Linked DNA regions of Homo sapiens: region 1 is linked to region 2. The links come from fine-mapping of genetic effects on gene expression. A gene starts in region 2. The other region holds a variant in brackets. All regions are shown on one strand. Distances are from middle to middle.

Region 1 (2,920 bases), 24 kb before region 2:
GAACAAGAAATAGTTTTAATAAAACATTAAAAATGATTTCCTCAACAAAACCAACTTCTGCCCCAACATCTTACCCACAATTTTACAACATTTTATAATTTCTAATAGAATTATGGACAAACTTCTTTTTTTCCTGAAAGGGGTGAGACCTGAAAACTGGACAAACATTTTAAGCAAATTCCTCTGTATCTGTTCAGTTTTACAACTAACTGTAACAGATATCTTTTCCTCACAGAAATATAATTAGAAATGCCTCAAAGTAACAAAAATATCTATCTCAGGAGGAAAGAAATTATGCTTGTCCTCTTGAGAGATTATTTTTAAGACCAAAAAAAACTGGTTGTTTTAAGTTAAGTAAGAACTAATATCATCAGGTTAAACCAAATACTTTCAGCAAAACCATTGTAGATTCGTTTTATAACAATTTCACATTCCAGAATTTTTATTTCTCTGCATTTACCTATCACACAGTTTTGTAGGTCTCCATTATATTTTGATAGAAAATGTGTCCATTTAAAATATGGCTGTGCACAGTGGCTCATGCCTGTAATCCCAGCACTTTGGGAGGCCAAGCCGGGCAGATCACTTGAGGTCAGGAGTCCGAGACCAGCCTGGCCAACATGGTGAAACCCTGATCTCTACTAAAAATACAAAAATTACCTGAGCGTAGGGGTGCGTGCCTGTAAGCCCAGCTACTCAGATGGCTGAGGGACAAATCACTTGAACCCTGGAGGTGAAGGTTGCAGTGAAACAAGATCGCACCACTGCGCTCCAGTCTGGGTCATGGAATGAGACTTTGTCTCAAAAAAAAAAAAAAAAAAAGAAAGAAAAAAAGAAAACTGCCTGCCTAACATTTAACTACTTTTGCCAAATACAATAAATCTAGAAATAATTATTTGATAATCTGTGAATGGGGAAAGTTAAAAAAAAATCACATGATAATCTAGCTATTTGATATTTTTTAAAAGAGCCCCTATGATTCTGAAATGACATTCATTTTTACTATCTGTAGAAAAAAGCCAAGGCAGATTATCTGTTATTCTGCATAAATGCTTTAACATTAAATGCCATTTCTTGGGCAAATTAAGAGCCAATTAGCTTGAGTATCTCTCACTTTTTGCTTTCAAAGGAAAAATAAAGCCTAATTAAAGGACTGTATCATACTGCCACATGTACTTGTGTAATTGAGATTTTTCCCTTGAATTTTTAAAAATAATGTAGCATTTGCTAAAATATCTAGGTGGCAGACATCTTTAGGAATTCCACCTAGCTTTACCACTCCTTACTCTGAAAACAGCCACCAAATCCCTAACCAACATGTATTTGTTACATGACCCTGTTTTCCTGGCAAAAGCTGATGCTGTCAAAGGGAAACTCATACTGTAGCAAGTCAAACAGAAAACTGAGATACAGTCAGGCAGTTTAGGCTGG[C/T]TGGTTAAACAGGGGAGATTAAAGTAAACACACAAAGCAGAGGAGAGATGGAAATCTCATTTCTAGTCATGCCTTGAGGCCTAGCTACATTCTGACCCTGGGTTTCTTGGAACCCATTTATCTTTGCTAGAAATTCTTTTGCATTTTTCAAAGCTGTATCGAGTTAGTTTCTAGTACTTAAACCCCAAAGTCCTAGCTAACATAACCCACCTTCACCTTCTTCATCCTCTTCACCTTCTTCCTCTTCATCTTCCTCTTCCTCCTCAGGAATACTGTCTACTGTTCGTCGATCATCCTCATCCTCATCCTCTTCTTCCTCTACATCCACATCATCTTCATCTTCTTCTCCTTCTTCTTGTTGTTCCTCTTCTACTTCTCCTTCATCAGAATATTGCCCTTCCTGGGGAACAGAATTCCGATCAGGAGAAATGGGCTCAAAGTAATCTTCTCTATGAGGAGCATCCTCTTCCTTGTCACCAGACACTGAAAAATTGAGATTTAAGGCACAGACTATTTTAATGGTTTAAATGACAAAAGGCAGCAAGACTGGATATGGCAACTACTTAATATTTTGGTTGATATAGTTTATAAATACCCTTAAAAAAAAAGAATTACTCACTGTTTAAAAAATATTGAGTATACACTGTACAACTTCTACAGTGAGCAATAATAAAGTATACTGTTAAGCCATTCCCTTTCTTTTTAGCTTTTAAGTAACTATACACGTTTTTGTCTTTTCCAGTACATACTTATTTTTATTTTATTTTATTTATTATTTTTATTTATTTTCTTTTTTTGAGACAAGAGTCTCACTCTGTCGGCCAGGCTGGAGTGCAGTGGCATGATCTCGGCTCACTGCAACCTCCGCCTCCCAGGCTCAAGCAATTCTCCTCCCTCAGTCTCCTGAGTAGCTGGGATTACAGGCGTGTAACACCACACCCGGCTAATTTTTGTATTTTTAGTAGAGATGGGGTTTCACTATGTTGGCCAGGCTGGTCTCGAACTCCTGACCTCAGGTAATCCACCCACCTTGGCCTCCCAAAGTGCTGGGATTACAGGCGTGAGCCACCACGCCCGGCCTATTTTTATTTTATTTTATTTTTATTTTTAATAGAGACAGGGTCTCCCTATGTTGCCCAGGCTGGTCTCACACTCCTGGGCTCAAGAGGTCCTCCTGCCTCAGCCTTCCAAAGTGCTAGGATTACAGGCATGAGCCACCACACCCAGCCCAATACTAGTGATTTTTAACTGGTACTCTTTTGTACATATCACTACAGCAAACTAACACTTTATTTTGGCACAGCTTCAAATGAATTAACAAATTTTTTTTTAACAAGTTAACTGGCTGACAGAAAGAAAAATACAATTAGTGGCCAGGCACTGTGGGTCACACCTGTAAATCCCAAAACTGTGGGGGGCCAAGGCGGGAGGATCACTTGAGTTTAAGACCAGCCTGAGCAACATAGGAAACTTCTTCTCTATAAAAAAT
Region 2 (2,920 bases):
AATGAAGGCCAATTTTCCTAAACTAGAATAGTACTAAACTAATTCATCACATGCCTCTTTCTCTTTTTCCTTTTTCTCTTTCTTCCTTTCGAGACAGGGTCTCACTCTGTTGCTCAGGCTGGAGCACAGTGGTGTGATCTTAGCTCACTGCAGCCTTGAACTCCCAGGATCAAATGATCCTTCCACTTCAGCCTCCCGAGTAGCTGGGGCAACAAGATCAAACCACCACAACTAGTTAATTTTCTTTTGTAGAGACAGGGGTTGCACTGTGTTGCCTAGGATGGTCTCAAACTCCTGGACTCAAGCAATCCTTCTGCTTCCGCCTCCCAAAACGTTGAGATTACAGGCATGAGCCACTGCGCCAGGCTCTTTCAGTTTTAACTGTTCTCTATTTCTATACACCATAAGTTTGTTCTGATCCAACTACTGCCTCCATTGAGGGTTTTCTAAATCTCGGCTAGAATGTTAGATATAGTCATTGAACAAACAGTGCTAACTGACCCACATTAAATGTCAGACCATAAATTAACTGTCAGTAAGAAATGCTAACTCAAAGTTCTCCAACTTTTGACTTTTACAAACCTATAAACCATTCGTTAAATTAGATCACAGCTGTCAACTTTTTATTTTGCCAAGTAAAGCATTATGATACAATCACTACCCACTATCATTACTATCTCATAAAAGAAAGAACATTTTAAACATTTTCCATTCAAATATTTATTGAGCACCTACATTTTGCTAATACTGTCCTAGGCACTGGAGATACAGCTGAGAAAAAGAGAAATTATATCTGTCCTCAAAAAGCTTGATACAAGAGCACACTTGATAAAAATAAAAGGAAAAAAATAATCTCCAAAGAAAGAACAGTTCTCTAAATTAAGCTTACATTAAGACAGAAAAATGTGAAGTTCGTTTTTTTTTTTAACAATTTCTCCGTAGACTTCATTCAAGTTCATTTTTGGTCTGCTTTCAGGAATCTTTAGTTAACCAGCTATGTTTAATCTACATATTGCAGGGCCAATTGTACATTAAGGGGCGCTCAAGTAGTTTTGTACAGAAATATTACTCCACAACATTCCACCTCCAACCTCAAAGGAGATGTCTGCTGATGAGTTTAACTATAATTCTCTCAACTCTCCCCTCTTCGCAAGTATTCTCCGTGAATGCATCTCATTCCTAATGTGTGAAATCTCTCCGAGAGACAAGTATTAAAGTTTCAGGCCAAATCGGAGAGCACCGTAATCCTAAACCAAGTAAGTGTCACAACTGGGGAACATAATTCCCGACAGAAAAGAGGCCAAAGAGAAAGGATTTAGAAACATCGTGATTCGGAAACCACGAAGCCAACGTAAACTGCTCAGACTCCGGCACTACTGTCAAACACTACTGGCAAACCAAGACCCCTCCCAAACGCCATCTGAGGTAAACCTGAGAACCCTGATCCTTCTCAAGGCCCAAACCTGACAGGAAAAATAAAAAATAAAGCCATGCAAGCAGAAAAGCCAACTCGACCAAAGACACGGAGGGCCCAAGTTAAAGCAAGGAAATGAAGGGGCTGCTGCAGCCCTCCCTCAGACGCGATGCTCACACAGCTCGGGGGAGGGTGTCTGTGTGTAAGCGAGAAATTAAAGAAGCAATCTGCAGAAGGAAAAGTGGAGAACGCCTAACGGTTTTTTTGTAAAGATCCCAAGTCAAGAAGCAGCGTCAGAATCAAGTCGCCAAGCCTTACCTCAGCGCTCGGGTGTTTAAAAGTATCTAAAAATAACAGCTCCATCGCCGAGTCCACCGCCATGTTTGCCGCGGGCGGGGAACAGGGGGGAGGACTTCCGGGGCAGCGCTCCAGCCTCCGCGACAGCGACTCAGGAGAGGGAGAAACAGAGGGACTTCCGGTGACCAGAGCACTAGCGCCGCAAACCTCGGCCTATCCCAACGCATCTTGTTGCCCGGAGTTGCCGGCCCCGCCTTTTCCAGCGCGGCGGAGGGCGCCCCCTAGAACGCAGAGGGGGGGCAGAGGGAAGTGAGATGGGGACTACGGGGTCTCCAGTGGTTCAAACCCTGTCGTTCCTCCGCGTTACAGAGCTACAGCGGTCTCCGGGTGGCGAAGTGCGGAGACGGGGTTTTGGAGACGGTGGATGGAGGAGGGGGAGGGAAAGCTGCCAACTTTGGATACCAACCCCGTACACCCACCGAAGGGGATGTCCCACTTTTTCCAGCGCTGGGAGCAAAAAGATAACAGTGAGCGAGGTTGAAAAGTAAGACATTGATTTAAATAGAAGAAAAACTGTTGTTTCAACCAACGAAGAGATTCTTTGTTTTCTTATCTGTAAAATGTGAAAAATCGTACCTAACCTACAGGGTGATTGTGAGGAGTAATTGAAATAAAATTCGAGGAATTGTGTAACGTGAAGTACCATGAACAATAAAACAGGAGGCAGAATGAAAAGTAAGCCTCTCTGTCGGGTGTTGATGAGCTTTGGAGCAACGAGATAAACTCAGCGGGTTTGGTAGTCTAAATGGCACAAACCCTTAGCAGAGCAACTAGGAAATAGCTTGTAAAATTACACGTGCCTACCACTCTTCTAGGAAAATTCTCGCCCACGTATCTACAAATACAAGAATATTCATAGCAAACTTTATAAGTTGCAAAAGAGCAGGAAACATAAGTGCCATTGACAGAAGTAATAAGTAAATAGTGGCGTATTTATATAATAGTATATAGCAGGTACGAAGAATGAACCAGTGCTATGTTTACTAGCATGAAAAACCCAAAAAACAGGGTTGGTGGGCGCTTTGGCTCACGCCTGTAATCCAGCACTTAGGGAGGATGAAGCGGGAGGATCGCTTGAGCCCAGGAGTTGGAGAACTGCCTGGGCAATATAGCGAGACCCCGTTATTCACAAAAAGAAAAAAAAAAGAC

Alleles and levels. Alleles are on the strand shown, and positions count from the first base shown. SD is a standard deviation of normalised expression in the study named.
For the expression in iPS cells of the gene that starts at base 1,817 in region 2, T is the low allele of the variant in region 1 and C is the other (large effect, 0.84 SD a copy in iPSCORE).

The links. PIP is the estimated chance that this variant, and not a neighbour inherited with it, causes the effect.
Region 1: its variant is the best candidate, but not a certain one, in a credible set for the expression of VIRMA in iPS cells (iPSCORE, PIP 0.54).

The regions. Positions count from the first base shown.
Region 1 is chr8:94,527,429-94,530,348 of GRCh38, forward strand. It overlaps VIRMA (vir like m6A methyltransferase associated), which reads right to left. Exons shown (of 24, transcript NM_015496.5): 7 at 1,642-1,914. Among named protein-coding and RNA genes, the nearest start is that of VIRMA, 25 kb to the right of the region's middle. The variant C/T (reference allele first, on the strand shown) is at 1,432.
Region 2 is chr8:94,551,653-94,554,572 of GRCh38, forward strand. VIRMA (vir like m6A methyltransferase associated) reads right to left here and starts at 1,817. Exons shown (of 24, transcript NM_015496.5): 1 at 1,733-1,817. The coding sequence starts at 1,795. It overlaps VIRMA-DT (VIRMA divergent transcript), which reads left to right and starts at 2,061. Exons shown (of 2, transcript NR_183271.1): 1 at 2,061-2,255. RefSeq lists an enhancer at 1,511-2,130.